3 separate regions of the Homo sapiens genome follow, and all the other regions are linked to region 2. The links come from fine-mapping of genetic effects on gene expression. A gene starts in region 2. Each other region holds a variant in brackets. All regions are shown on one strand. Distances are from middle to middle.

Region 1 (2,763 bases), 93 kb after region 2:
TGAGAAAATTCATACAGGATATGATCATCTCAAGAATCAAAGTCTGACTTCATTTATATGCTCAATTTCACTATCATTATTGGCGTATGGAACAGCAATATCTAATATAACTTTCCACAACGATGACAATGTTCCGTATCTGTGCAGTCCAACATGGCAGCCAGCCACCGTGAAGTAAGAGTAATTGTAAGTTGTATTCTTCTCCTACATAACCCCTTAAAAGTGTGATGAGGAATGGAATTTTAAATTTTATTAATTTTAATTATTTTAAATATACATAGTCACATGTGGCAAGTGGCTACCATATTGGACAACTTAGGTCTAGAGTGCTATTTATCTTCGCGTTTATCTTCTAATTCGTATGTCTCCTAAATTTTTTTATACGTTTTTGAAGTAGGATGTAGTATTTGAGCAATGCAGTGAGAAAACTGAAAAATGACTATTTATTACATCTTCCATCTTCCTTCTAGGAGATTCTGTCATTCTTTTTTTGTCTTTTTTTTTTTTAGCACAGTATAAATAATTGATAAGTAATGATAAAATTCCTAGAGTAGTAAAATATTTCAATATATAGGAAAAGCCAAGATTATTAAGATCTCATAATGGATGTTAGGTTTATAAAAAAGGGTCTAATGGACTCATATGGTAACTGTAAGATAGAATAATTTTTTAAAATAAATTTTCTCTTTGTTCTTTGGTAGATCTCTAAGAATACAAGTCATAATATCTACCCTTCTAAATAGTTGGCACTGCTCTAAAATGAAAATCAAAAATGAAAATTATTCCAACTGACCCTGATGGTATACCAAGGGTTTAGCCTTCTTCATTCTCTTATTTTCATTCCTTTAGTTCTGCTGGTCTGGAAGACATCTATTTTATTTCTATTCCTTTTGTGGTTACTCAGGTTAAAAAAGAAAAGCAGCAGCAGCAGCAAACATGTATAGAGTAGTACTAATCAGTGGCTTTATATGTATTTCACTTAATCCTCCCCACAACAACTATGAGAAGGTATTATTGTCATCCCCAATTATACATAAGGAAATTTACGCGTAAGAAGGTAAAATAACTCCTTAATGTCACACAGTTAGTAAGAAATAAGCTAGTCTTTCATTCAGGTAGTCTGGCTGCAGAGCCACAAAATAGCTATTTAGTTTTGGTAAAATACCCTGAAGTTGGTCAGTGTCTCTTTTTGTGCTACTTTTTGGGAACAAAGCAAGAATAGTAGCATTCCTGACTCAACTCTATTTTCCAACTTTCTTGTTATTGTCTAGAGTTTTGATTCTACTTTAAAAATTATGTATTTGCAATCAACTCAACTTGATTTATCAAATATTTTGCCAATTCTTTGTTTGCCACTGTATT[A/C]TTTTTTGCAATTCCTCCTTCTCCCTGGTTTACTATTCTTGCTGAAGTACAATCTTTGGTTCTCCCATCAAGCTTCTGTAAGTGAGGAGCTCTCTATTTTGTGTATTTCCTCACTTTGGGCCTCATTCTTGCTGACAGATAATAGTTTAAATGAGTATAGAATCAAGGTCAACAGTTATATTCCTTATACATTCGGAGGAAAGAAGATCCTTTTATCTTCTGGAAGACACTGTTCTGGTAAATACGTTGTTAATTTAACTAATATTTTAGTGTAGGGACTGTGGCATTTTTCATTTTGAAAAGCTTTTATGTTTTATGATCTGCAATTTCACTTTTGAGCATCTAGAAGATTTAAAAAATTTATCCTGGTAAGCAACTGTTCAGCAGTGCGCTATTTCAATATGAAAACTCAGTTCAATATGAAACCTTAAATTCTGGAAACCTTTTAATCATTATCTCACTGAATACTGTTTCTCTACTACTATGTCTAATCTCTCCTAAAATTTCTTTTGAATATTGAACTTAGGTTTGAATCTCTCGATCTATATTCATTTTTTTTTTTCCACTTCTCTCTTACTACATTCTGGGTGAATTCCTTAATACTATTTTCCAAATCACTGTTTCATTGACCATGTTCAGTCTAGTACACATCTAATGACATCTTACTTAATACAGGGTTTTTTTTTTTTGAGAGGGTCTTGCTCTGTTGCCCTGGCTGTAGTGCAATCATGGCTCACTGCAGCCTCAACCTCCTGGGCTTAAGCGATCCTCCCACCTCAGCCTCCTCAGTAGCATGGGACCACAGGTGTGCAGCACCACACCCAGCTAATTTTTCTATTTTTTGTAGAGATGAGGTTTTGCTATGTTGCCCACACTGGTAATTTTGGTTCTTTTATGGCAATTATTCCTTCCTTTACCTCCCTGAGGATCTTAAACATACACTTTAAAATTGTTCTATTATTTACACCTATAGACTAAGGATTCACTTGAATATCAATTATTCCCACTCCTGCAAAAAAGAAAACATACTATAAATACTGTTTCATGATTCCCATTTTTTCCCACTAAGCAACAAAACTTAGGAGATATTTCTGTATCAGTACACAGAAAACATTCTCTTTTCCCTCTGATGAAGGTGTTGACTTGGTTATTTTAGGTTTAGTTTTTCTTCTGTATTTTCGAATTTTTGTTTGGCAGGTTCATTGTAACTCTAAGTTGCATGGTGTGTGTGTATCTTTGTGTGCTTACCTTACCCTAACGATTTTTCATTTTCTCCATCTCTCACTCAAACCTCCCACCCCAGAATAAGGTTTTTCGTTTCGTTTTGTTTTGTTTTTGAGATGGAGTCTCGCTTTGTCGCCCAGGCTGGAATGCAGTGGTGCGATCTTGGCTCACTGCAAC
Region 2 (2,739 bases):
GAACCTTCTGGCAGAACAGTCTCCAAGAACAAGGCAAACAACTAATTTTACATAGGTTTTTACCAATGTACAGCTGTTGATTGTGACTGGTTTCCGGCAATCTGGATTTCACAATCTGGATAAGGGGACAAACAATTGTCTGTCTTCCACTATCTTTCTTGAATTTGAATAGAACCTTTTTATTCTCATAGCCTCTTAGCTTTCTTTCTTTTTTTTTTGAGACGGAGTTTCGCTCTTGTCGCCCAGGCTGGAGTGCAGTGGCGCGACCTTGGCTCACTGCAAACGCTGCCTCCCAGGTTCAAGTTATTCTCCTGCCTCAGCCTCCCAAGTAGCTGGGATTACAGGCGCATGCCACCACGCCCGGCTAATTTTTGGATTTTTAGTAGAGACGGGGGTTTCACCATGTTGACTAGGCTGGTCTTCAACGCCTGACCTCAGGTGATCCGCCCGCCTCGGCATCCCAAAGTGCTGGGATTACAGGCGTGAGCCACTGCGCCCGGCCTCTCATAGTCTCTTAGCTTTCTAAAATTTGAAAAATCCTGTAAAGACACACCTGGGTCAAAGGGCTCAGATAACGGACTGTGGCCCTTAAGTACTTACGTCACAGGTTATTGAGAGGATCGATTTAGTTACCAGATGTAAAATGCTGGGATCAGTGCCTGGCAAAGGAAAACTTTGTACAGCTGCAGGCTTTCACCATACACAACAGCATCGCTAACGAATGCTATTACAATATTCATTTAGCGTTTACCAAGTGCCTACTCTATACAAATCTTGAGAATACAACGTGAAGGTGAACTGCTGACTAAAGTTTGGTCCCTTTCGCTCCGTCTCCTTGCGAAAATGCTCTAACGGCAGGAGGTCACGCGAGCGCTGGACGCGTTTCTCCCCGCGAGCCCCTTTCCGAGGCCTTTCGGGTCCCCCCGGTTATCCCCGCCCGGGCGGTGCGCGCCCCCGCTGTTCCCGCTTCCGCTCCAGAGAGGCAGGGCTTTCCGAGCCTGCTAGCCCCGCGGCCGCAACTAACCCCGGGTCGGAGTGTTCCGGCCCGGCCAGCCCCGCGGCGTGAGGGAAGGGGAGCTCAGCAGTTCCCCGCGCGGGGCCCAGGCGTCGGCGGCAGGGCGGGCCCCTCACCGCCAGCGTGCCAGCCCCGCCCCTACCCACCAGTGTGCCAGCCCCGCCCTTCCCCACGTCGCCGCGCGCCCGGGGGCGGGGCCTGGCGCGCACCGCCCGCGCACGGCGAGGCGCCTGTTGATTGGCCACTGGGGCCCGGGTTCCTCCGGCGGAGCGCGCCTCCCCCCAGATTTCCCGCCAGCAGGAGCCGCGCGGTAGATGCGGTGCTTTTAGGAGCTCCGTCCGACAGAACGGTTGGGCCTTGCCGGCTGTCGGTATGTCGCGACAGAGCACCCTGTACAGCTTCTTCCCCAAGTCTCCGGCGCTGAGTGATGCCAACAAGGCCTCGGCCAGGGCCTCACGCGAAGGCGGCCGTGCCGCCGCTGCCCCCGGGGCCTCTCCTTCCCCAGGCGGGGATGCGGCCTGGAGCGAGGCTGGGCCTGGGCCCAGGCCCTTGGCGCGCTCCGCGTCACCGCCCAAGGCGAAGAACCTCAACGGAGGGCTGCGGAGATCGGTAGCGCCTGCTGCCCCCACCAGGTAGCGGGGTGGGGGTGGGGTCGAAGGCGGGGGCATAGCGGCGGGGCGCTTGGAACCCGGCGAGGGGAGGCTCGCACAGGGGGTTGGGGGGGTGCACGGCCTGGCCCTGGGCTCGGAGGAGGCGGGGCCGCAGAGTTGGCTTGAATGAGTGCAGGGGTCGAGTCTGGAGCATTTGGGGGTGTAGCTTGTAAACAGGGTCGGAGGAGAGAGGCTGTGCAGGAAGAGGGCTGCAGGGGAGACGCGGAGAGTTCGGGCCTTTTGGAGGGAGGAGACGCGTCCCGCCAGGTGGGGGTGCTGGGCTAAGGAAGGGGCGACGCGCGCAGCTCCGGGTGGGGAGGGGGCCTGGGAGGTGGGAGCACTGGGGGTGGGGCGAGAAGGGGAAGGCGCCCGGCCCACTTGGTGGGCGGGGCGGGGGGCGGGGTGGCGGGAAGGAGGAATGCCTGCGGGAGGCCGAACGGGGAGAGTCCGGTGGTGTGGGGTGCGAAAGGAGGTTCCTCGGCCGGCGCGGAGATAGTGAGTTGGGGCTCCAGTAGTCGATCGAGGTAGACACTTAGAGGTAGTTAAGAGCCGCGGTCGCCGAGACGCCTTGGGGACGGTGGGCCTTCGGCCTAGGTGAGGGGCCGCCGAGGGGGTGGGCCACGAGCTGCGAGCGCGGGGGGGTGTGTCACCATGGGGACCGCGGGGCCTAATTGGGCGGGGCGGGGCCGTGGGGAGCCGAAGTGCTGGGATCCGGCTGGGTCCTTCGGTAGGTAGGCTGCACGTGCACCGAGACGAAGATAGAATATTTTGACGTATGTGGAAATTCGTGTCGAGTGGAAAATATTTTATTTTATGAAATAGTGTAATTTTTATGGGGCACCACTGGGCTTTTAGAGGCCTTAATCGGGCGCTGGACAAAGATGTGTGGACGTGAGTGACTCCGGGGAAGCCTGTCGGGAGTTGTCCTCACTTTATGGGCAGTTAAGTGCTTTTTTTTTTTTTTCCTTTTTGAGAGAGAGTTTCGCTCAAGTCCAGGCTGGAGTGCAATGGCGCGATCTCAGCTCACCGCAATCTCCGCGTCCCGGCTTCAAGCGATTCCCCAGCTTCAGCCTC
Region 3 (2,763 bases), 110 kb after region 2:
GTTAAGTGATTCTTGCAGGAATCCTTTACTCTCCCCCTCCCCCAATACTTTATTTGCCTCTGAAGAATCACTCCTACCCGAAAGATCTTTCTCCAAATTGTTTCTTTTCTTTTTTTTTTTTTTGAGACAAGGTCTTAAAACTCTGTCACCCAGGCTGGAGTGCAGTGGCTCAATCACAGTTCACTCTAGCCTTGACCTCCCTGGCTCAGATGATCCTCTCACCTCAACCTCCTGAGTAGCTGGGACTACAGGCATGGGCCACCACCCCACAGCTAACTTTGTATTTTCTGTAGAGACGGGGTTTCGCCATGTTGCCCAGGCAGGTCTCAAACTCCTGGGCTCAAGCGATCCACCCCACCCAGCCTCCCAAAAAGTGCTAGGATTACAGGCATGAGCCACTATGCCCCGCCCAATTGTTTAATTTCGCTTCCCTCTTTTACTTGGCCTAAAATACCAAAATTTGACAAGTTATCATAATCAGTCTCTTAAAAATGCAAATGTCTTTCAGAGAATTAATGAAGACATCAGTCATTCATATGTAAGTGTGAAGTAGTATAGTGGCTACTTTTATGTATTGCTGACCTTATATGAAATAAAGTGAGTGAGTCTATAATTTCCTTTACCATAAGAACACTTTGCTAAAAATACTAGCTTTCAAAATATAGTGCCTTACTCCAACTTCTATTTCTCTCAACAAATCTTCTTTGATATTTCTTCTTTACTATGATAGAAGTCTGGAAAGACTCCTACTTTTCATTTGTTAAATTTTATTCACTTCTAATTCCCTTTAAAGCTTGTTTTTTTCTTTTTTCAAAAAGTTATGACCAATTATGTGGGAAGAAACAATAACTAGTAACATACATACCAAAGTTGTCCATCTCAATATATAACAAGGGAATAAAAAATAGTTACATGCTCTTCCTCTTCCCCATCCCCTTTCCTACTAAGTGTTAGAATCTCATAAAGCCACATGTTCTTATATACAGTATGTTAATATACTATGAATGGAAGATAGAAAAATCAATGCTTGGATATAAAAAAGAATTATTGTATCTAAACCCAAGTAGAGTTGGCAAATCAGCAAAGGCTAAACTGATTCAAGTCAGTTGGTTACACTACAGTAACACAGACACCAATATCAAAGGTTAAACCCACACAGTGGCCAGTTAATTTCACACTAAAGAAAAACTTCTGGTCGGGTGAGGTGGCTCACGCCTGTAATCCCAGCATTTTGGGAGGCTTAGGCGGGCAGATCACTTTACATCATGAGTTTGAGATCAGCTTGGCCAACGTGGGGAAACCCCGTCTCTACTGAAAATACAAAAATCAGCCAGGCATGGTGGTGTGCACCTATAATCCCAGCTACTCAGGAGGCTGAGGCAGGAGAATCACTTGAACTCAGGAGGCAGAGGTTGCAGTGAGCCAAGATCACACCATTGCACTCCAGCCTGGGTGACAGAGTGAGACTGTGTCTTAAAC[C/CA]AAAAAAAAAAAAAAAAAAAAGGAAAAGAAAAAAGAAAAATTTCCAACAAAGATTTTGCCACAATTCAACTCAACCATCTGGAAAAGGAGTGTTGTTCACTAGGAAAAAAGAGTAAAAATGAGATTATCACTATTATCAGAAAAATAACTAAAAGTACATATTCTTACTCCATTTCTAGCCTTCAAATAATCTCTAAGTATGAGAAAATACAAAAGCTCTCTTCACACAAAAAAAAGGATGAATGACACCTCTTCTCTCATGAGATGTGAAAATATTCCTTAATGTTTTTTAAGGTTTAGTCACCACATGGAAGAAAACAATTTTCTCCCCTTTTTGAACATAGCCCCATGATCTTCATTTGTTAAAAAGAACAAAACATTTAACAACGGGGTTTTTAGAAACTGGGAGAGCAAGCAATTAACATACTGAACTCACACTTGCTTTAACATGCTATCTTATTCGGGGTGTTTAAAAAACGTTTTAAATGCAATTAATGCATTCATTTTCAAAGGAAAATAAACATTTTTGATATTTGCCTTCAACTGAAATAAATCATGTAAAGGAAGTTAGTTGGTTTCATTTCTCTATTTTCTAAGGATTAAGTTTAAGCACATTTTTTATGCTAACCAAACATATATAAAAACTCCAAGCTACACATATAAGAAACACACCAAACCATGGTGAGAAAAGAATATTTAGTCCACAAACCAGTCAAAATTACCACTGAAATCTAAAACTAATTTAACGCACATTTTTCTCCTTCTGAAATAGTCCAGCCTACAACCATGAGCTAAAATCAGTTAATACCCTTTATTCATAACTTATGAGTAATTCAGGGGAAATCTACCCTTCTTTGTATAATGAGTGCTTAATGATCTCATCAACACACTGGAAAAACATGCTGGTCAATCAGTAGAGTCTCATCTTGAGACAAATCTACATGAGAGGTAAAATTATAATCAGAAGATTACTTGAAAAATGTGAAACCAGATAAGTCAACAATCAATAGCATCAGACTAGTGCAGCCATCTCCAATAGGACAGATGGTATAGAACAGGGGACAGATCTGCTTCAAGGGGCAGGTTATTGCATCCCCTGAAAGTTATACAAACATTCTGCCAAATGTATTTTGGTATCTTTCCTTGTTTATAGAAAGATTAGGTGATATAAATCAATTTTGAAATTTTTTTGCTACTTACTATGCATCTTCATTGTTGTATAGCTGAGCCTCTACTTCTTCATTTATTAAAAAAAAAAAGTAATAAAATCTCTTACAGAATTGG

Alleles and levels. Alleles are on the strand shown, and positions count from the first base shown. SD is a standard deviation of normalised expression in the study named.
As copies of C replace A in region 1, the expression in neutrophils of the gene that starts at base 1,299 in region 2 goes down (large effect, 0.81 SD a copy in CEDAR).
For the expression in neutrophils of the gene that starts at base 1,299 in region 2, CA is the low allele of the variant in region 3 and C is the other (large effect, 1.1 SD a copy in Naranbhai 2015).

Evidence for each region. PIP is the estimated chance that this variant, and not a neighbour inherited with it, causes the effect.
Region 1: its variant is fine-mapped to the expression of MSH6 in neutrophils (CEDAR, PIP 0.95).
Region 3: its variant is fine-mapped to the expression of MSH6 in neutrophils (Naranbhai 2015, PIP 0.95).

What each region holds. Positions count from the first base shown.
Region 1 is chr2:47,875,004-47,877,766 of GRCh38, forward strand. The region is part of intron 1 of FBXO11 (F-box protein 11); the gene reads right to left. Among named protein-coding and RNA genes, the nearest start is that of FBXO11, 30 kb to the right of the region's middle. The variant A/C (reference allele first, on the strand shown) is at 1,363.
Region 2 is chr2:47,781,847-47,784,585 of GRCh38, forward strand. It overlaps MSH6 (mutS homolog 6), which reads left to right and starts at 1,299. Exons shown (of 10, transcript NM_000179.3): 1 at 1,299-1,647. The coding sequence starts at 1,388. RefSeq lists an enhancer at 672-741 and silencers at 872-1,351, 1,632-1,791, 1,992-2,081.
Region 3 is chr2:47,896,222-47,898,984 of GRCh38, forward strand. All of the region lies in intron 1 of FBXO11 (F-box protein 11), which reads right to left. Among named protein-coding and RNA genes, the nearest start is that of FBXO11, 8.9 kb to the right of the region's middle. The variant C/CA (reference allele first, on the strand shown) is at 1,480.